Homo sapiens: one gene and its partners. The protein of the gene in region 1 interacts with the protein of each later gene in a pairwise test. Each region holds a gene or a part of one and is shown on either strand. Other genes may lie near its edges. The genes, in order: KCTD15, REN, ENSA and NBPF19.

Evidence for each region.
Region 2: the proteins of KCTD15 (region 1) and REN interact in a two-hybrid assay, tested with the Homo sapiens proteins (one large-scale study listed by BioGRID and IntAct).
Region 3: the proteins of KCTD15 (region 1) and ENSA interact in a two-hybrid assay, tested with the Homo sapiens proteins (one large-scale study listed by IntAct).
Region 4: the proteins of KCTD15 (region 1) and NBPF19 interact in a two-hybrid assay, tested with the Homo sapiens proteins (one large-scale study listed by BioGRID).

What each region holds. Positions count from the first base shown.
Region 1 is NC_000019.10:33,799,189-33,804,979, reverse strand, and holds part of KCTD15 (BTB/POZ domain-containing protein KCTD15), read right to left. Parts: intron 5,387-5,791; coding exon of another isoform or gene 5,358-5,386; exon of another isoform or gene 5,262-5,357; intron 4,553-5,261; 5' UTR 4,526-4,552; coding exon 4,460-4,525; intron 3,814-4,459; coding exon 3,638-3,813; intron 1-3,637. UniProt on the Homo sapiens protein: During embryonic development, it is involved in neural crest formation. Inhibits AP2 transcriptional activity by interaction with its activation domain.
Region 2 is NC_000001.11:204,162,650-204,168,954, forward strand, and holds the start of REN (renin preproprotein), read right to left. Parts: upstream 3,689-6,305; 5' UTR 3,645-3,688; coding exon 3,547-3,644; intron 1-3,546. UniProt on the Homo sapiens protein: Renin is a highly specific endopeptidase, whose only known function is to generate angiotensin I from angiotensinogen in the plasma, initiating a cascade of reactions that produce an elevation of blood pressure and increased sodium retention by the kidney.
Region 3 is NC_000001.11:150,620,626-150,625,410, forward strand, and holds the end of ENSA (alpha-endosulfine), read right to left. Parts: exon of another isoform or gene 2,653-4,785; intron 2,235-2,652; coding exon 2,219-2,234; 3' UTR 1,500-2,218; downstream 1-1,499. UniProt on the Homo sapiens protein: Protein phosphatase inhibitor that specifically inhibits protein phosphatase 2A (PP2A) during mitosis.
Region 4 is NC_000001.11:149,501,737-149,507,527, reverse strand, and holds part of NBPF19 (NBPF family member NBPF19), read right to left. Parts: intron 5,243-5,791; coding exon 5,070-5,242; intron 4,351-5,069; coding exon 4,299-4,350; intron 3,695-4,298; coding exon 3,522-3,694; intron 2,813-3,521; coding exon 2,761-2,812; intron 2,111-2,760; coding exon 1,938-2,110; intron 1,224-1,937; coding exon 1,115-1,223; intron 482-1,114; coding exon 309-481; intron 1-308.

The DNA of each region.
Region 1 (5,791 bases):
TCCAGCCTGGCCAAGAAAGACAAACGCTGTCGCTTAAAAGAAAGAAAGAAAAGGGCAAGGCTGTCTCGTGGATGGGCATGGGGAGGTCAGAGTCTGCTGTGAGCCCGAGTCTGTGGACCCAGAGCTGCAGCCACCCAGATACAACTCATCTCAGAGCTCCAAAGGCCGATGAGCCCTGTCAACCCCCTAGGCCTGGTGACAATGGCACTGCAGGTCACAGCCCCTGCTGGAAAGGCTGTGGGTTCCACGGCTGGCTCCAGTTACAAAGGCCCTAGGACCTGGCCTAGTAGAGCGTGGGCATCCAGATGTCAGAGTGAGGGCCACCCAGCATTCCTGGAGACAGATGGGTCTGTCCCAGGCTGCCAGATACCATGGGCAGTGGTTGGCAGGTGGCTGAGGTCCATGTGTGGCACCGGTGGGAAGTAAGAGCTACATCCAAGGTGAGTCAGCAGATCCAAACCCTCAGCCTCCTGGGAACTCTCCCCACCCTTCCCAGTGGAGCTCCAAAGTCCATGTAAGCAGGCAGCATTCTAGGCCTGGCTGAGTTCCCAACCCTTCTGACGTCAGGTCTGGCTGAGGCTCTAGCTGGTCCTGTTGGTCTAGAAGACTCCTGATGCACCCACATTCCAGGGCTGGATGGGTTCTAGGTTGTCTCATCGGTCCAAGTTTAGAAGGTTTTCCATCTGCCTTATTTCAGGACAGGCTGATTCTAGATCTTTCCATGGTTCAGTATAGGCTCCTGGATCAAGCGGCAGCTGTACCGCCTCTCCCAGGACAGAGGCCTTTCATGCCCTCAGCGTCTGAGGCTGCCAAGGACGTGAGCAGGTTGAGGAAAGGTGAGGATAATCACCATGGAGGAGCCCTCAGCCATTCTCAGCCCTGCAGGTATGAGTTCCCAGCTCTGTCAGGGGCTCCACGTTCCCTGTGGAAAATGGCCCAGGCCACCCTCTGAGAGAGGATGCAGGGTTTGAGGGGCCGGCTTCCGAAGTCCTCCATGGAATGAGGTGGCCAGTTCACGCTGCAGCAGGTGGGACCCTCAGGGGCAGAAAAGATGCCTCCAACCACCTGCCCTGTGTGCACAAGGGGGAGCATCAGGATGGCCTTCGTCTTCTCGTTTATTTCCTTTTTTTTTTTAAGCTCTGGCTCCAATTTCCTGGCTGTTTCAGGCACCAGGTTTTAAGAGTTCTGAAGCTCCTGGCCATCTTCATTTGATGCTTCCCATAGTCAGGATGGATGTCAGAGTGTGGCTGTGATGGCGGCAGCTAACGGGGGTCAAGCAGGCAGGACACCAGCAAGGGGGCCGGCCCAGGGAATCCACTCCCAGCCCCGGCTGTGCTTGGCTGTCTCGGGTGAGGACCAGTGACTGCTCCTAGGCAGACCAGAGGAGTCACCCAGCACGAGACTCTCCAGCACCCAGGCCACCCCAACCGCCGAGACCCAGAGGCTCAGGCAGAGTTCTCAGGGGAGCCGAGGGTAGAGGTCCCAGCTTTTACAATGCTGCCTAGGGCAGGTCATCTTCACCATCCAGAAACCCCCTGAGGACCACAGCACTCTTAGTCCTCCATCTCCAGGTGTCTCCTAGATCAGTGACACTAGGTGAGATTGATTTTTTCCAGAATTGGTAGAAAACTGCTTATATTATAATAATCCACTACAGGAAGGACAAGAGAGATCTGAGGGGCTCTTGCCAGCACAGCTGCCTGACCCACTTCTCAGGCCCCCTGGCCTCCTGTCCCCTGATTGTCCTGCAGGTCAGCCATCCCTGGCCTCTAGTCCAAAGCTTCAGGCCTACAGAGCACCCCCACAGCAGCCAGAGGCCATCCAGGCAGAACAACAGATTCACCTTGAGCCCCAGCCCTGGGGAAGAATAAACATAGACTGCCACCCCTTGGGCACACCAGGAGGGTCCCAAGTGCCAGATCACAGGGCCACAGGGGCCCTAGCTCCCCATGAGAGCACATCCCACAGCAGAACAAAGCAATGGGTGAGCAGCACAGTGGGGCTGGGTGGGGGGAGATGGCCCCCTGCCCTCCTGCTCTCAGGCAGCAGCCAAGAGCCCAGAATGAGAAGCCTCTCCCACCCGCCTCCCCCAGGGCCTGGGCTGTGATTACTCCAGACAGGCAACTCTCTGATTTCAGGAAACTCTTCAGAGAGGGTTGTGGGCAAAGGTTTTATGAATTTCACTCACAAACGTCGTCAACCGATTAAGGGATGATCTATCTCAAACAACTCAGAAATGCCGCAGAAGGCAAAATGGAAATTAAATAAGCAGAATCTATCTCCCATCCTAGACAGGGCTCTGTGAGTGAGCACACAGGCCAACACTGCTGACCTGGCCCCGTGGCTCTTGTCCCCACCCCACAAGCCCCAAGGCCACAGGGCCCCAGGCTGAGTCTCTGTCCACCTGGGGTACTGGAACACCAGTCACCATCTGTACCCTAGACTCTCCAAATTTGGAACTAGACACTGCACCCATTTCCAGTTTTTCCTCCTCAAGGGACCATGCCTGCACCTGCACAGGCTCCCCTGCAGCCCCAACAGGCTTGGAAAGCCACCTCTGCGCACTACCATCCTCCCTGCTCTGAGGAACCACACCGGTGACAATGCAGCCTGCCGTGTATGCTCCCCAGAGATGATCCCTCAGTATCTGGGGGATTAATTAACTCCTCCTGTTATTTCAAATGCATAACACAGGGGTGATGCCCACAGCCTTGGCCCTCCCACGCTCAGCCTTCAGCAGCCCCAGGGGAGCGATGACCGCCTCTCTGTGCCAGGAGCAAACATCCTCGGCTGAGCAAGCTGCTCAAGACCCACCCTACTCGGGTCAGCCCTGCTGCCGTGCCAACGGGGAAAGCAGGTCCCTCACCCAGGAGAGAAACACCCTGCAAGGAAGAGCAGGAGAGCTGGCAGCACCCAGCACCCCAAACCTCTCGCAGGCCCAAGGGCCTGGGCAGCCTATAAGTTCAGCAGCATGGAGGGTGCCTGTGAGCCCCCAACCAGGGTCCTGGCCAGAGACCCTTTATCCACTGATGAGGTATGTGATTCATTCCTAGCTAGTCACTGCAGCACCAGCTCCAAGGGAAGCCTGCTGCTAGCCTCTAGGGCCCAGCAGTGGCCACGGAAAATGACAAAGATGGCACACTGCAGCTCACCACAGCTCCTCTTCCCTCCCCTTGTGAATTTCCCAGGGGTGGAATAGAAAATAGGATTAAATACCCACCCCCATGCCCCCAAGACTTACCTACTCAGTATCACTCACAAATGACCCCCTGCAGGGGCCGGGCCTAAGTCTCCCTCCAGAGGAACCTTGAAGGTACGTGAGACTCCCCTGCCCGCTGCCGGCAGGCTCAGGCTGGGCTGGCTCTGAATAAGCCCTAGTCCCCTGCAGGTGGGTCAGGAGCTCCACCTTGCACTACCAATGCCGCCAAGTCAGGGTCACAAGCCTCTGTGCATAGCAGCTTTCAACAGGCAGACTTGGACTCCCCAACCCTAGCTCCCTCAGGCTGTGTCAGCTTGTGCACCCTGGAGACCCTGGTGGGTGGAGTGACAGTGGGGAGAGACCCCACCCCCTAGGCAGCAGATTACAGATGCTGCCCTGACCCACACATGCCTGATGTTTCAAGGGGCTTACTCTTACCTGGAGTCAGGGTACTTGGTGAGCGTGGCCAGGCTGCTGGTGTACATGTGGCCGCCCACATCGATGTGCACAGGTGCATTGGACTTGGTGAGCTGGGCTGGCAGGGGGATGCCCTGGGCAGCCAGGGGAGACACAGGCGACCGGGTGAGAGACAGCCGGGACATGTTTCCTCCCTCCTAGAGATGGAAACAAAGCGGAACACAAGAGTTTCAAAGCGGAACACAAGAGTTTCTCCACAACACAGCCATGCACTCCCTTTATTGAGAGTGTGATCACAGATCTAATCAGATCACTTCTGCCCGTGCCTGATCATATATTCAGCTGACAAATTATGGCCACCACTGTAATTAAGTGTATTTGCATCATTTTCTTCAAAGTACCAGAGGGAAAAAGAAAGATGCTTATTAGCAATAAGAAATCAAGAAAAAAAATTTTTCAAGGTGTCAGCCTCCAGGGGCATAAAACAAACTGCAAAATTCTAATTAAAGGTCGTGGGCTTATGTGTTAGATGTGAAATATCCCCTGACAAACGAATCACCAATTTGTGAATTGGGATTCAGGGGTTTTTTGCAAGTTTGTCTCAGTAACGAGACACCTCTAAATTAGTGACTTCCTCAGCACCTAAGGCGTTGAGTTTTATACATGTAGTAAATTTCACATCAAATTAAGAGCATTTTTGTTTCAAAAATACATAATCCTACAGCCAGTCAACAGCCACCTGGAGTGTCATGGTCCCAAGGAAGGACAGCCAGTAAACAGGCACTGGGGAAGAAGGGAAAGAGGGAACTCCCGGCAGGGACCCAGCCCACCCTGCAGGCTCACCGCGGTGCCGGTGCTGCCGTGTGTGTGAAGCGAGGACCCGCTCGGCCGCTCCTTGCGGTGAGGCATCTAGGCTTCCATCCCTGCCCAGAGTATCTGCGGGAGGCATCGACAAAACCAGAGAAGGCTTATTCCTCCTAGTCATGTACCATGGGGTCAAAGACACTTAGAATTGTCCTTTCTGCATGCTCTCTGAGACCCTGCGAGGTCCATGCAGCCCTCCCTGATTGACTCCACCGCCACTATCTCTCTATCTGTCTCCACACCCCAAAGCAGGCCTCCAGGCTGTAGCAGATGACACACACATACATGCACACACACACAGTCACACTCACACATGTGTTTTCTGGGCAGCTCCATGTCTGCTAATTCGGCTAATGACAGCACTGAAACATATGCTCACCATTATTGCCCCAAAATATTTCAGAACAAACCAGATTTTCCTGGTATTTTCCTTTCAAGCCATGTTACCAAGCGTGTCTCCTCTTGCAACAGCCTTGTGGACCAAGGCTCAGAAAGCACCCCTCACCCTCCATGGGCCAGGGAACCTAGGACCTCTCTTAATACCATCCCCATGGTGATAAGATACAGCTTGCATCTGGCCAGACACAGGGAAGCCGTTCAGCAGAAGTCCAGGCACATGGATGAGGGCAAGTCACTTGGGAAGCCGCCTCTTCTCTGTGGCTCCCAATAGCAGAGAAAACCTGTCTTTGTTTGCCTAGTCTGTACCTCACAGTTTCTCCCCAGACTCCCAGAGTGGTGTTGTCTATGCCTAATGCATTCCAGACCCCTCAGGATCACATACCCCCGAGGCATCAGGAGATGGCCAGGTGGCCAGGAGGAAGCACAGAGCAAGCAGATCAGCCAATGGACCCTTTCTACTGCTCCTCCCCAGAGGCACTCAGTAACTCTCCTCTGTGCCGTAGTCACCTGAAATAAGATTGTCCCTCAGTCCCTGGAAGCCACACCCAGGGGCGCTTTGCAGGCCCTATGCAGGAGGGGCAGAATTCTGCAGCCCCGTTCACTGATTTACAGCTGTCTCAAAAGGGAGGAAAGAGGAGATTTGCACGTGAATAGTCACCCCCCTTCACACATCCACAGACACTGGCTTCCACAAACCTACCCTGGACGTCTCTCGAAGGTTTAACCTTTAAGAGAGAAACCACTTGAAATTCTTGGGACCCATGGGATTGCTTTTTCCCATTAAAACTCTGGGATCAAAATTTGTGCCTTGAAATTCAATATCCAATTTTAATCCAACCAGAATCAAATCCTGCAAATGTAAGCAAGGTTGCTCTCCCTGAGTGCCCGGGCAAGTTTCCTGACATAAAACTG
Region 2 (6,305 bases), on another chromosome or scaffold:
AGACAGTGCCATGGGAGGCCGCTAGGTGGCAGCAGATGCCCACAGCAGCTGCAAGGTCTCCAGGATACCAGGGGACAGGCACCCAGCCAGGGCTGTGGTGGAGTGGACCCCCTGAGCTGGGTTGGGCCTAGAGAGATGCCAGCATCTTCAGAGCGCCATGCACCTCGTCCTTGGAGAGATGTGTCCCGGTCCCTTGGCTTCTTGTCTAGATGTTTTCCCATCACCTTTGAGAGGCAGAATTAAAGAGACCTAGGAAACTGACTCTACTGAGCCGCTACTGAAATCACACCAACAAGCTAGCTGTCATCCATTTTATAGATGAGAAAAATGAAGGCTCACAGGGACAAAGGTGACTCAGAAATGTTGAAGCAGGGATTCAGAGCATGTGTCTGGCCCTATTTCCCATATAGGGTCCCCTGGGTCCCGACATAAAGGCTGCCAAAGCCCAGAGGAAGATGTCTCTAGCTGTTCACGGGAAGGTCCCAGGATGGAAGCCCAAGTTGACTCTGCAATAGACTTTCCCATACACACAAAGATTCCCTCTTTCTTCTACTTTCTTCTCAGTGGCTAGTCCTCCTATACTCACACTACCCTTTCCTTCCTACATCCTTCTTGCGTCCCATGCATTCTACTTACCCCCATTTTGCCCATGAACATGAATGCAACTTTTATGCCTATCAGCATGGTATTGTAACAGAAATGATTTGTTATCTTCCTATCACAGGTTACTGTTACCAAAATATTTTCACAATCATTATTTTATTTGCTCTCATAAGGTGGATGATTTTATTACTCCCACTTCACAGCTGGGAACGTGGAGGGTCAGAGGTTTGGCCCCAAAGAGGTTGCATTTCCCACTGTTTACTCACAACAGCCTATGCTTTGGACCTTTACTTCTTGCCATTTCCTTTTCAGAAAATCCTTTCCTTCTTCCCTTCCTTTTCCCCCCAGTTCTTTAGTCCTCCAAGGCCCAACATGTACCCCCACCTCCAGGAAGCTTACCCCAAGGCCTCCAGCCCACACCGGCCTCACCTTCCCGTGGGCCTCAGCTCTGTTTTTCCTTGGGTCTCACAGCCCACACTGTACAGCTTGTGGAACTGGTGCCGTACGGTGGTGAAGACAGTGGTTGCAGGGGGCATGCCTGAATCCCCTTACCACTTATGTGATTCTGAGAAAGCTACCTAACCTCTCTGGGCCTCTTCTAAGTCTCCATTAACCCCTCTCTAACAATGGGCCTAATGGTAGTACCTACCTCAGAGTCACTGTGCAGATGAAACCATGCGACCACTGCTCAATAAATGTAAATTGTAGGTGTGTATATGTACATGTTCACCTTGAGAATGGAGCTCATTCATTCAGCTGTCCCAAGTGCCTCGCATGATGCTCTGCACATAGCGGGTAGCAAAATTCCTATAATACTGTTTCAAAAGCTGGATTCCCCCTCCACCCCTTGCCCAATTCCATTCTTTTTCTCTTTTGGATAACAGCAGGGGAAGATGTTTTTACTTTCCTCTACCTTTATCCTGGAGTGCAGCTGCTTTGAAGCACCCATCCTCTTACCCAGTGCTCACAACCCAGCAATTACTCTCCGAGAGCCTCAGAGCAAGGGAAAGCAGTTTCGGAAGCAAAAGGCCCAGTGTGTGTTGAGGCTTAGCCTCTTACATATCACCTCCCTGAGCCTCAGTGTCCTCATCTGCAAAGTGGGAATGCTGAGTTGTTGGGGGCATGACTTGAGATGAGACATGTGAAAAGATCCTGTGACACCCTAAGCATTTTATAGGCTTAGCAACTATTACCATTATTAAAGTGTGCCTCCCTACCTTCAGGACTGCTGGTCATATCTGCTGTCCCCAGATTGAAAACCCCTTTCTCTGTGAGGCCTTTTCTCAAATGCTGTCTCTTCCCCTTCTTCAGTCTTTTTTTTTTTTTTTTTTTTTTTTACATAAGGTCTGGCTCTATCACCCAGGCTAGAGCACAGTGGGTCAGTCTCTGCTCACTGCAGCCTCCACCTCCCAGGCTGAAGTGATGCTCCCACCTCAGCCTCCCGAGTAGCTGGGACTACAGATTTGCACCACCACACCTAGCTAATTTTTGTATTTGTACAGACAAGGTTTCACCATGTTGCCTAGGCTGGTCTTGAACTCGTGAGCTCAAGCGATCTGCCCACCTCAGCCTCTCAAAGTGCTGGAATTACAAGCATGAGCCGCGTGCCCAGCTTCCTTCTACAGTCTTAATGAATCACTTGTTCCCACAAGGCCTGGCACCTAGGGGATGCTAAGGTTTTCTCCTTCTAATTGTGGGCTACCTAAAGCCTTGTTTTTTTCTTTCTTTTTTTTTTTTAGACTGAGTTTTGCTCTTGTTGACCAGGCTGGAGTGCAATGGCGCTATGTCGGCTCACTGCAACCTCAGCCTCCCAGGTTCAAGCGATTCTCCTGCCTCAGCCTCCCAAGTAGCTGGAATTACAGGCATGTGCCACCACGCCCGGCTAATTTTGTATTTTTAGTAGAGACAGGGTTTCTCCATGTTGGTCAGGCTGGTCTTGAACTCCTGACCTCGGGTGATCTGCCCCCCTCGGCCTCCCAAAGTGTTGGGATTATAGGCGTGAGCCACTGCTCCCGGCCAAACCTTGCTTTTGATATTTGTAAGAATCTATCCTGTAGTACTAACAGTAGCTGGGCTCTTACAACGTGCCCAGCTTTCTATGCCTTATCTCCTAAAATCCCCAAAGCAGCCCCATCAAGTAGGTACTGTTATTATCATACCTGTTTAAAATGATAAACTGAGACTTGGAGAGGTTAAATAACTTGCCCATGATTCCAGACCTAGTTTGTTCTGCTAGTGAAGCAAAATTTAAATGAAGGCAATCTAACTCTATAAGCCTTGCATTTAACCACGATATCAAGCTGCTTCCCTGGTACAGTTAACTGTACCCATGCCCCGACCCCCGTCTTTTTTTTTTTTGAGATGGAGTCTTGTTCTGTCACTCAGGCTGGAGTGCAGTGGCACGATCTTGGCTCAGCAATCTCCACCTTCCGGGCTCAAACGATTCTCCTGCCTCAGCTTCCCGAGTAGCTGGGGATTACAAGTGCCTGCCACCATGCCCGGCTAATTTTTGTATTTTTAGTAGAGATGGGGTTTCCCCATGTTGGCCAGGCTGGTCTCAAACTCCTGACCTCAAGTGATCCGTCTCAGCCTCCCAAAGTGCTGGGATTACAGGCAGGAGCCACCGCGCCCAACCACCCATGCCCTTCTTAATATTCAGGCTGTGAGCTCCTCAAGTGCAAGGGGCATGTCCTAATACTTCTGAGTTCTCTACAGTGCTTAGTTAGCATGGTGCTCTGGGCAGGAAGCAAAAGTCACAGCTTCTAGACCTGACTACTAGTGTCATTTATTGGGCAAGTCACTTGACCTCTCTGAACAGGTCCATACTTCCCTGTCCAGCTGATCGTAAGGACTGAATGACACCGCATGTGGAAAAGCCAGGGTGTTGGGAAGGTGGGAACCCTGCACCCCTCCCACCCCTTCTCTGCCTGAGTTACCAATTACCGTTTAAAGGTGGTGGTGTCTGTCGGGAGACCAAAGGTACAGGAGCCCCAGAGCAGCAGCAGCAGTCCCCAGCGAGGCATCCTTCTCCATCCATCCATGCTTCCCTCAGTCTGGGGCTCTCTCTGAGATCCACTGAGGTTCTGTGGCTCCCTTAGCCCTTCCCCTTTTATACACTCCATGCATGGGGTGATTGCAATTCTGCTCTGCCCTGATTTATTACCCTGGGGTAGATGGCAGGGCAGTCAGCAATAAATCTCACTGCGGGACAGAGCTAGGTGGGTGAAGGGTACCCAGGTTTCCGGATGGGGAGCAGAGGGGCTGGAGGAAGGACAGCTGTGGGAAAGCAATCTTGTGTCCAGTGACGCTAGCAGCCCTCTATCTGGCTTGGCCCTGTGACCCCTGGAGCAGGCAGAGGCTGATGAGAAACAGCACTGCTCAGGGCTAACATCAAAACTGGGACAAGCGTAAAACCTAGGTTTCCAGCTCCCTAGCCCAGACCCAACCCCTATACCCTGGAAGCTCCATTCTCTATATTAACTTTGGCTTTGTCCCTGACTGGCCTCTCCCAGGCTACAGCCCAGTTTTCCCATCTAGAACATGGGTGAATCTTCATGACTGGTTTCTTGGCAGGAAAAGCAACAGCTGGTTTAATTATAAGAGTAGAGGGGCCAGGCATGGTGGCTCACACCTGTCCCAGCACTTTGGGAGGCCAAGGTGGGTAGATCACCTGAGGTCAGGAGTTCCAGACCAGCCTGACCAACAATGGTGAAACCCCATCTCCACTAAACTACAAAAATTAGCTGGGTGTGGTGATGGACACCTGTAATCTCAGCTACTCAGGAGGCTGAGGCAAGAGAATTGCTTGAACCCAGGAGGCGGAGGTTGCAGTGAGCTGAGATCATGCCACTGCACTCCGGCCTGGGCAATAAGAGTGAAATTCCATCTCAAAAAAGAAAGAGAGTGGAGGGAGACTTAGCATGACTGACTCCATTTTGCCTCTGACCCCCAGGGGTATTATCCTTTAGGCTAAAAGCTTCTGCTTAGCTCTGTACATAGACCAGCTAATTATAGGAGTTTAGCTTGCAGTTCAACTTTAAAAAAAATGGTAACAGTTCCTTTCCCCAAACTAACCCCCAAGGAGATAAGGAAATATACAGACAAATAACAATGTTATGTTAAAGATGTATAGGAACATTGTGACCTGACCTAGAAAAAAGAAGTTTTACAACGTCCTCAGACCCTTGCTGGCACCCAGGTGTCTGTGGTCATCAGTCACCTCTTGATCCCAATCCCCTTCTTCTTCCCCTTCCCTTAACATAAAGAAGAGCCTAACGTTCATGCTGACTTCAGATGGTTCTTTATGATGCTGGTCCACCATCTTCTTGGTTTTCTGGTTCTCTGAATAAGGTAGCTTTCCTTGCCACAATACCTTGTCTCTAGACTTATTGGCTGTTGTGTGGCAAGTGATACGAGCTTGGACTCAGCTACTCATAGCCTTGAACAGTCTTTCTGTGTCTGATTACATTCAAGTATTGTTTTCATCAGGTTTGACTTACAGGTTATCTAAATGGGCTTCCCATAAGAAGAAGCAATCACACTACAGAAAGTTTTTCTTTGCGTTTTTGGTAGCTGGCCTAAGAAACAATTATTTTAGGCTGGGAAACAGTGGCTCATGCCTGTAATCCTAGTGCTTTGGGAGGATGAGGTAGGAGGCTCACGCTCACTTGAAGCTCGTTCAAGACCAGCCAGGGCAATATAGCAAGACCCCATCTCTGAAAAAAATTAGCTGGGTGTGGTGGTGCGTGCCTGTAGTCTTAGCTACTGGGGAGGCTGAGGCGGGAGGATCACTTGAGTCCAGGAGTTCAAGGCTGTAGTGAGCTATGATTGTGCCACTGCACTTTAGCCTGGATGACAGAGTGAGACCCTGTCTCAAAAAATAAAAGGAAAGATTTTACATTTTCTCAAGATAATTCCTCATTCTTGTTATCTTTATCAGGTTTTTGATTACTTAGGAAAACTGAGCTTTAGAAAGGTTAAGTCTTTATATTCATGTAACTTTCTGTATTGCTATTAAAGTCTTTTAATTATCACTTTTGTGAAATGAATAATTATTATTTTACAAAGACCGGCGGTTCTGTTTTGATCAAATGGTTTGAGGCTTTAACATTTTGACAAATGTCCTCAAAATCTAATCCTAAATTAAGTTTGAAATGTTGCTAATTCTTTATGTTTTGTTTTCCAGAGTCAAGAAAGCCTTTTTTTTTTTTCTGAGACGGAGTCTTGCTCTGTCACCCAGGCTGGAGTGCAGCGGCGCAATCTCGGCTCACTGCAAGCTCCACCTCCTGGGTTCACACCATTCTCCTGTCTCAGCCTCCCAAGTAGCTGGGACTACAGGCACGTGCCACCACGCCCAGCTAATTTTTTGTATTTTTAGTAGAGACGGGATTCCACCATGTTAGCAAAGATGGTCTTGATCTCCTGACCTCATGATCTGCCTGCCTCAGCCTCCCAAAGTGCTGGGATTACAGGCGTGAGCCACTGCGCCTGGCCCGCCTTTTTTCTTTTTGAGCTATTTATAGCTTATAGAAATTGGGTTTACCTTTCTCTCTGTACCTAATATCTCCAGGATTTAAAAAACTATTAAATCCCTCTGGGCCCAAGGACGCTCATGGAAGAGGTGGGCACAAAACACCTTTTGATGTACTAATTTTACTTTTAAGGAGTAAAATTAGTTCAGATCCTCCAAATATAGGTACACA
Region 3 (4,785 bases), on another chromosome or scaffold:
TCCTCACTTGTATTAAAATGAAATTGCACTAACTGCTGGGTGTAGTGGTTCACACCTGTAATCCCTGCACTTTGGGAGGCTGAGGTGGAAAGACTGCTTGAGGCCAGGAGTTCAGGAGCAGCCTACACAACAAAACGAGATCCTCTCTACAAAAGAAAGGATGAAAATATATTCTCAGCCAGGCGCAGTGGCTTATGCCTGTAATCCCAGCACTTTGGGAGGCTGAGATGGGAAGAGTGCTTAAGCCTGTGTTCTGAGACTCACCTGGACAACATGGTGAATCCTCATCTCTACAAAAAATAATTAGCCAGGTGTGGTGGTGTGTGCTTGTAGTCCCAGCTACTTGGGAGGCTGAGATGGGAAGATTACTTGAGCCCAGGAGGTTGAGGCTACAGTGAGTGTTTGCACCCTGCACTCCATTCTGGGTGACTGAGCAAGATCCTGCCTCTAAAAAAAAAAAAAAAAAGAAAGAAAGAAAGAAATTGAATGATCCCACATTCAGCCTCATAGACCTCACCTCATTCCCCAGCTGGCAAACACAAACCAGGGATAACATACTCAGGAGGAAATCATGGGATGGCTCACTAACCCCACCACAATAAACACCATTAACTTGTGTCTCTAGTTTAAATTTGTACTTGTTTTATTTTATTCATTTATTTTTTTTAGATGGAGTCTCGCTCTGTCGCCCAGGCTGGAGTGCAATGGCACAATCTCGGCTCACTGCAAACTCTGCCTCCTGGGTTCAAGCGATTCTCCTACCTCAGCCTCCCAAGTAAGTGGGATTATAGGCATGTGCCGCCACGCCCGGCTAATTTTTGTATTTTTAGTAGAGATGGGGTTTCACCATGTTGGCTAGGCTGGTCTCAAACTCCTGACCTCAAGTGATCCACCCACCTTGGCCTCCCAAAGTGCTGGAATTATAGGCGTGAGCCACCGTACACCCGCTGGAGTTTTTTCTCCTTTGGTAACCTTTCTTTTGTACGTTACATTCACAGGCAGCTTTTAACTTCTTTCAGTAGCAGGTTTCCAGCAATGCAGATTGGCACATCATGAGGAAAGAAATCACTCTGCCTCCTGCTGGCCACCAGCAGAAAGACTTGAGTTTCTTTTGGCTTATTACAAAGAAATAATATATTTCTTTTGGTTTGTCACATTTCTCCCTCACAAACATGGGAACTTGAAAAGGAATGGAAGACAGAGGGAAAAGGAGACTGGGCCTCCTTTTCTGCTAAACCTGGACTAGGCTTAGGTGTCAAGAAACCATTTAGATCAAATATCTTAAATGCCTCATTTTGTGAGCCACAAACTGAGGTTGATGCACCTTCTACATTGGTTACAGAAACAAAGGGATGGGCAAGGTTTATGCCAACATTCCTGCTCCCTTTCCTAAGTGATGGTATTGGGGAACTCAGCCGCATCTCACATTAACAATGTCTTCAGTATTGTTTTCTTCCCCCTCCCAAACCCCAATAAAACACACCAACTGCTTCAGAATATTTCTGGGTTGGGTTTTTTCATGGGTTTTTGTTTTGTTTATTTCGAATACTGAAAAAGTCCTTTGGGCTCTGTGGGGTTCCCCACGCTCACGGCTCCTTTCTCCCACACTCACTGCCCTTCTTCCCACAGCAAATCTATTTCAAGGACAGTACTTTTTAAAATGATTAATGTTGAGTTCTCAACTAGCTCTGCAGAACTAGAGGAGCTGTTTGCATCTGTCTGTGCGGATGGAGTTTCTTTTATCTGACACCAGGTCTCCAACCACACTGAAACAAGGCATTTATCTACAGAGCTCAACTAGAACCCCTTTTCATTAGGCTACTCCACTTCCTTCCCCTCATACCTACCCCACATCAGCCACGTGGTTAAGAAGGATAGTCAGGAATGTTTTTACCAACTCCAAGCCCTAATTCATACTCCTCCATATCTCCCACCCCACCCTTTCAACCCCACCCCCACCCCCAGAATTTCATTGATATTTCTCCCAACTGTTATTTGGAAAAAAGGTAAAACAAAAAAGGTTCAAGGTCTTGGTGCTCAGCCCAAGGGGCTCCATGTGCTGGGACACCAACAGGAAAGGGCTTCTGCCTCTCCAGCCCACACCCGAGCCACCTCCTGACCCCTGGCTGCAAAAGCAGGAAGGGGCAGGAGCCAGCACAGGACCCGGGTGGGGCAGGGAGGGGAAGCGTCTCAGGATCTGGCAGAGCCCCGGGCAGCATCATTCAACTTGGCCACTGCGGACGAACACAGAAGAAAAAAAAAAAAAACAACACTGTCAAGTAATAGGGGAAAAAAACCCTGAACTCCAACCCAGTCTCTACCCCATGATTCCTCCACATTTAACAACCATTAGGCTACCTGGCATGTCTCAATCCTATCCATAAGGGAGTTGCAAAAAAAATCAAAAAATAGAATTTCAGTCTTTTCCTATCCACGAAACAACGTTATCTGCCTTTCTGGGATATCCATGGATAACAAACATAGAAAAATAATTCTTTAGATAAGATCAAAATAACTGGAGGTTTCCAGGTGGGTAAGCTGCCTGGCTCAGAGCAGGCTGTTTCAGAGGCATGGCCACAGCTACTTGCAAAGACTGAGGTAGCACAGAGATGAGGTGGTGACTGTGTGGAGGCCAGAACCAGACCACACACATGCTGTTCTGAATGGATTTAATAATCTAGGTTTAATCAAAGCAATTTGCATTTGGATTTTGGAATGACCACTCCTTGCTAAGGAAGCTATGTACTTCATGCTGTGGAAACTGGCAAATACAGAATGTAGCTTGTTTGTTTTCTTAGCCTTGAAGATGACCAGGTAGAGAGACAGAGTGAGACCAACAGTTTTTCTGATTTCCCTGCTCCTCCTATTCCTTCCTAAAAATCAGACTCATTGTGACCAGTAGTCTTGAGGACTCAAGCTGAATGATAGAGAAGGCAGCTCAGACAGAAAAGAAAAAAAGTACAGAATTTGAGAAGATCGGAGATGAAGAAAACGTACAAAATTATATATATATTTATATATATAATAACATGACATATCTATGTACAACATGGCTGGGACAGTTGAAGAAACTATACAATGGTGTTCAGCATTTTCCCCTTCCCAGATGGACTTTAAGGATGACAGCATGAGGAAATGGAGCAAGAAACACAAAAATTATATACAATTACAAGTGACAGTCAAGGAGTTTGGGGACCAGGGAGTCCAGGGATCCTGCTCTCTCCATTCCTTCCTCACCAACTTTCTCCTATCCAATTTGAATGACAGCCTGAACACTGAATGGCCAGTCAGGAGAAAGGCATATACACACCTCATCCCCCCACATGCACATCAGCAAGTCTATCAGTCATTCTCATTGGGCCAAATGTTTGGCATATCAGAATTTGTGATGTGAGAGGGCAAGAGGATTACAGAATCTTGCTCTCTTGAGCATTAGTTCTCACCCTGGTCCTCTCTGTCATAACTAGCAAGTTGCGTTCAATAAAATTCTAGCCAAGCTGGTGGTAACTAGATTGAAGATGCTGGTCACCTGCAACCCCTTTCCTCCACCTGTTCATGAGTCAGCATGGCTACCTCTCCTCATGATAAAAGAGCTGGGTTGCTGAGTTCTGGGGATGCAGAGATTTCTCAGTCTTCCTCCTCTCCCTCCCTAACCACTTTCCCCAGCTTCCTCCAAGGTGAATCATCTTCTAAGAACCTGTTCCTCCAGCCCTGCAGGAGTACTCAGCCCCAGGGGCTAGCTCAGTTTACCCTTCTTCCTCTTTCCCTAACAATATACCTGGCATCAGACTGCATCTGAAACATGGGTCAACACATGTGCATGACTGAGCATGTTTCCTCAGGCCTGCAGCTCCGCTGCCAGAGAAGCTTTTTAGCAGCTAAGGCCCAGAGGTAGGCTGGGAAAGTGGGCTGGGTCAGAGGCAAGAAGCTTCCATGGCTAGCTTCCTAAGTATTTTTTTTTGACCCTCAAGACTGTGATATCTATAAGGTTCTCTTGCCTGAATTTATAATCCCCAAACCTCAATTTACTCTCTCCTCATGTATCCCTCAAATGGTTCCCCTCTGTAGTACTTTCCCAGTATTACAGAGCAGAGGTTCACCACCCACGAGCCTTCCTCACTTTTAGTTTTACAATGAACAGTATGGAGTTTTTCTGCTGGCAGTTAAGACTTCAGAATCAGAATCAATCTTACATACATTTAACTCTATTTTACAGATGAGGAAATAGAAATCCAGAGAGGCTAAATGACTTAATCAAGGTTATACAACAGCTCTGCTGGGACTGAGTAGAGTGAGAACCCAGATATCTTGACTCCTAAACCAGTGCTCGTCCCACTATCCCATGATACTTTCAAAAGCAACATGCTGGAAGAGAGAGAGAAGGTGCCCATTTTCTGTGAATAATGTTCATCAATCTTTATATTATTTGAGAGCCAGAGCAAACTGTAAGAGATACTAAGTAATGGAGGCTAAGGGGGCACTGTAGTTTTAGGCAAGCAAGTCAATTTTTCTTTTTAAGGATTCTCTAAACCTGCCATAATGGAAACATGAAGCAATAGCAGCCTAAGGGACAGAACACTTAGAAGCACAGAAAACATGTCTCATTCAATCTACCTTTCCCAACTACGTTAGGTTAGCCTTGGGATGTTAAACCTGCCAAACTATTCCCAAGGCTCAGCCTAATCAATTTTGGGACATTCTCTCCCAAAAGGAGAAATCACATCTCTCCAGTTTCTCACACAAAAAAAGCATTTGCAGCATTATCCAATCCTAGCCTTTCCTATT
Region 4 (5,791 bases), on another chromosome or scaffold:
AAGATCTACAAAATTGAGACAAAATCAGAGTTGCGTGAATTTGTCACATCTGCCCAGGTCCAGTGTCATGAGAGTAGGATTAGGGCGCCACAGGCATGGCCTGAGACTAGGAAGAGAGCCTTGCTCACTGACCCATCCCTTGTCTGGGCTGCCAAGTGGAACTAGAGTTTCATTCAACCTACATGTGCCTATAGGTCCTCCCTGTGGCAATGACATCTCTCAGCTCAGTAAGGGCCACTTGCAGTAGGAATATGACCCTAACCAGAAGACTCAGTGGATCCTTATCACCTTCATAGAAAGGTACTCACCATCCATGTCAACAGCCAAGCCAACACACTGTTGCTCCAATATGTAAAAGGCACTTCTGTAGGGCTGGCATGAGTCAGTCAGTTCAAGACAACCTGAAGGAGTTGAATAACATCTATCCAGTGAGTCCTGCAAGACTTCAGGCCCTTTCTCATCCAGCAGCTCCCTGCTGAGCCTGGAAAAGTGGGAAAAAGTAAAGAATAAGCCAGGGGGAATCAGAAACCGCACAGCCCCAGCTAGATTTCATGGCTAACGTTAAGGAAGAGTTTGAAAAGAAAAAGGACAGATCCATTAATGAGGTAACAAATTATTGCCTTTATGTTGGGATAGAACAGGGCCAGGTAGAAAACAATGAAAGAGAAAGACAGAGAGAGAGAGAGAGAGAGACAGAGACAGAGAGAGAGACAGAGACAGAGACAGAGAGAAAGTGACCTAGTGAATTGGCCAGGTGACATACTGGTAAGGGAGTAAAAGGACACTCTGAGTTAGTGCCCTCATGACACACAGCAAACTGTGATCATGAAAAGAGTGAGCTCAATAGTTTTCCATAAAATATGCTCAAAATTCGATGCAGTGGCCATGAGAGTACAGCTTTTGAAGTATGGTCAACCTATGGTACGTTAGGAAATGATAAGGGGAGGAAGAAATGGAAACCTAAACATCTACTGCAATGAAAACCAACAGCAATGACAGTAGGAGTAATTCAGCCTTCGTTGAAAACATGACATCAAACACACTCTGGTTTCCCTGAATCTGTTGCCTCCAGGTGTTAACACAGAATTAAGCATCCACAATTGCTGAAAGTCACCTGGGGCATGGTGGGTTTTGATCTTCTTCCCCTTCTTTTCTTCCCCTTCTTCTTTCCTTCTTTGATCTTCTTCCCCTTCTTTTCTTCCCCTTCCCCTTCTTTTCAATTTCTGCAATAAATTCAGACATGGACAGACACATTAAGCTGATTCCCCTACACACATAACAATCCACTGTCTAATCCTCACACAGGGACCTCAGGCTCCTCAGCATAAGAATAGGACACTGTGAGAGATATATTTCAGGAGGCCTGAAGGCTGGTCATGATAGAAATTCCTCGGTTTTTCTCCCAGAAACTGTGGGTAAAATGTCCCTATTCTAGTAGATCGTTATCCCAATATCATTTGTCCCAAGTTTGTGCAAACAGTTATGCCATATTTTTCCAATCAATTTAAAGCAAATACCCTCAAATGATTTCTAGGAGAAAAACTGCAATATTTAGCCCTGTCTCATCAAATACTCAGATTGTTCATGGTTGTGAGGACTTTAGACACTGAAATTAGAGTGAAAAAGGAAATCTACAAACCCTTGAGTCAAAATCATAGTTCTCTGAATTTGTCACATCTGCCCAGGTCCAATGTCATGAGAATAGGATCAGGGCGCCACAGGTATGGCCTGAGACTAGGAAGAGAGTCTTGCTCACTGACCCATCCCTTGTCTGGGCTTCCAGGTAGAACTAGAGTTTCATTCAACCTACATGTGCCTATAGGTCCTCACTGCGGCAACGACATCTCTCAGCTCAGTAATGGCCACTTGGAGCAGGAATATGATCTTTATATGGAAGACTCAGTGGATGCTTATCACCTTCATAGAAAGGTACTCACCTCCCACGTCAAGAGAAAAGCCAACATGTTTTTCCTCCAATGCATAAAAGGAACTTCCATAGGGCTGGCAGGAGTCAGGCTGTTCAAGACAACTGGAAGGAGTTGAATAACATCTATCCAGTGAGTCCTGCAAGACTTCAGGCTCTACTACCTCCACCAGCTCCCTGCTGAGCCTGGAAAAGGAGGAAAAAGTAAAGAATAAGCCAGGGGAAATCACACACAACAGAGCCCCAACTAGGTTTCATGGGTAGCATAGGGAAGTGGTTAAGAAAGTAAAAGGATAGATCCATTAATGAGGTAACAAATTATTGCCTTCATGTTGGGACAGAACAGGGCCAAATGGAAAAGAATGAAAGAGAAAGACAGATGGACACACACACACACACACACACACGCACACACACACACACACACACACAGAGAGAGAGAGAGAGAACGAGCTCAGTGAATTGTCCAGGTGACACACTGATGAGGGAGTAACAGGACACTCTGAGTTAGTGCCCTCAGGACACACAGCATACAGTGATCATGAAAAGACTGTGCTCAATAATTTTCCATAAAATGTGCTCAAGTTTCCATGCAGTCGCCATGAGAATACAGTTTTTGAAGTCTGGTCCACCTACAGTAGGTTAGTAAATGATAAGGGGAGGAAGAAATGGAAACCTAAATATCTACTGCAATGAAAACCAACAGCAATGTTAGTAGGAATAATTCAGGCTTGCTTGAAAAGATGTAATCGATAATGTCAGCCCGCTCTGTTTTCCCTGAACCAGGAGTCTCCAGATGTCAACACAGAAGTAGCTGTTCACAATTGCTCAGTTACCTGGGGCATGGTGGGTCTTGGTCTTCTTCCTCTTCTTGGTCCTTTTTAATTCCTGCAATACATTCAGACAGGGACAGACAAAATAAGCCAATTCACCTACACCCATAACAGTCCACTGTCTAATCCCCACACAGGGATCTCAGGCTCCTCAGCATGAGAACAGGACAATGTGAGAGATATACTTCAGGAGGCCTGAAAGCTGGTCATGATATTCTTTGGTTTGCATCTCAGAACCAAGGGTGAAATATCCCCATTCTGGTAGATCGTTATCCCAAAATCACTTATCCCAAGTTTGTGCAAACAGTTATGCCTTATTGTTCCCATCAGTTCAAAGAAAATGCCCCAGATGATTTCTAGGAGGAAAACTGCAGTATTCAGCCCTGTCTCATCAAATGCCCAGCTCGTTCATGGATGCAAGAATTTTAGACACTGAAATTAGAATGAAGGAGGAAATCTACAAACCCTTGAGTCCAAATCATAGTTCTGTGAATTTTTTGCATCTGCCTGGGTCCAATGTGCTGAGAGCGGGCTCAGGTTGCCACAGGCATGGCTGGAGACTAGGAATAGAGCCTTGCTCACTGACCCATTTCATGTCTAGGCTTCCAACTGAGACTACAGTTTCATTACAACCTATATGCGCCCACAGGTCCTGCCTGCGGCAATGACATCTCTCGGGTCAGTAAGGGCCACTTGGAACAGGAATATCACCCCTATCTGGAAGACCAGGTGGAGGCTTATCACCTTCATAGTAAGGTACTCACTGTCCACGTCAAGAGCCAAGCCAAGGTACTGTTCCTCCAATGAGTAAACAGCACTGCTGTAGGGCTGGCCTAAGTCAGGCAGTTCAAGATAACCTGAAGGAATCGAATAACATCTATCCAGTGAGTCCTGCAAGACTTCAGGCTCTTTCTCATCCAGCAGCTCCCTGCTGAGCCTGGAAAAGTAGGAAAAAGTAAAGAATAAGCCAGGGGGAATCAGAAACCACACAGCCCCAGCTAGATTTCATGGCTAACATAAGGAACTGTTTAAAAAGAAAAAGGACAGATCCATTAATGAGGTAATGAATTATTGCCTTTATGTTGGGATAGACCAGGGCCAGGTAGAGAAGAATGAAAGAGAAAGACAGGGAGAGGGAGAGAGAGAGAGAGAGAGAGAGGAGAAAGTGAGCTCAGCGAGTTGGCCGGGTGACACACTGATGAAGGGGTCAAAGGACACTCTGAGTTAGTGCCCTCGGGACACACAGCGAACAGTGATCATGAAAAGAGTGGGCTCAATAATTTTCCATAAACTTGCTCAAGATTCCATGCAGTTGCCATACAGCCTTTGAGGTATGGTCAACCTATAGTAAGTTAGTAAATGATAAGGGGAGGAAGAAATGGAAACCTAAACATCTACTGCAATGAAAACCAACAGCCATGTCAGTAGGAGTAATTCAACCTTCGTTGAAAACATGAAATTGAACACACTCTTGTTTTCCCTGGACCTGGCATCTCCAGGTGTCAACACAGAATTAAGCATCCATAATTGCTCAAAGTTACCTGGGGCATGATGGGTCTTGGTCTTCTTCCACTTCTTGGTACTTTTCAATTTCTGCAATAAGTTCAGACATGGACAGATATATGAAGCTGGTTCTCCTACACACATAACAATCCACTGTCTAATCCTCACACAGAGACTTCAGGCTCCTCAGCATGAGAATAGGACACTGTGAGAGATATTCTTCAGGAGGCCTGAAGGCTGATCACCATAGAGATTCCTTGGTTTTTGTCCCAGAAACTGTGGGTAAAATTCCCTATTCTGGTAGATCGTTATCCCAATATCATTTGTCCCAAGTTTGTGCAAATGGTTATGCCATATTTTTCCAATCGATTTAAAGCAAATACCCCCAAATGGTTGCTAGGAGAAAAACTGCACTATTCAGCCCTGTCTCATCAAATACTCAGATTGTTCATGGTAGCGAGGATTTTAGACGCTGAAATTAGAGTGAAGGATGAAATCTACAAGATCTACAAAATTGAGACAAAATCAGAGTTGCGTGAATTTGTCACATCTGCCCAGGTCCAGTGTCATGAGAGTAGGATTAGGGCGCCACAGGCATGGCCTGAGACTAGGAAGAGAGCCTTGCTCACTGACCCATCCCTTGTCTGGGCTGCCAAGTGGAACTAGAGTTTCATTCAACCTACATGTGCCTATAGGTCCTCCCTGTGGCAATGACATCTCTCAGCTCAGTAAGGGCCACTTGCAGTAGGAATATGACCCTAACCAGAAGACTCAGTGGATCCTTATCACCTTCATAGAAAGGTACTCACCATCCATGTCAACAGCCAAGCCAACACACTGTTGCTCCAATATGTAAAAGGCACTTCTGTAGGGCTGGCATGAGTCAGTCAGTTCAAGACAACCTGAAGGAGTTGAATAACATCTATCCAGTGAGTCCTGCAAGACTTCAGGCCCTTTCTCATCCAGCAGCTCCCTGCTGAGCCTGGAAAAGTGGGAAAAAGTAAAGAATAAGCCAGGGGGAATCAGAAACCGCACAGCCCCAGCTAGATTTCATGGCTAACGTTAAGGAAGAGTTTGAAAAGAAAAAGGACAGATCCATTAATGAGGTAACAAATTATTGCCTTTATGTTGGGATAGAACAGGGCCAGGTAGAAAACAATGAAAGAGAAAGACAGAGAGAGAGAGAGAGAGAGACAGAGACAGAGAGAGAGACAGAGACAGAGACAGAGAGAAAGTGACCTAGTGAATTGGCCAGGTGACATACTGGTAAGGGAGTAAAAGGACACTCTGAGTTAGTGCCCTCATGACACACAGCAAACTGTGATCATGAAAAGAGTGAGCTCAATAGTTTTCCATAAAATATGCTCAAAATTCGATGCAGTGGCCATGAGAGTACAGCTTTTGAAGTATGGTCAACCTATGGTACGTTAGGAAATGATAAGGGGAGGAAGAAATGGAAACCTAAACATCTACTGCAATGAAAACCAACAGCAATGACAGTAGGAGTAATTCAGCCTTCGTTGAAAACATG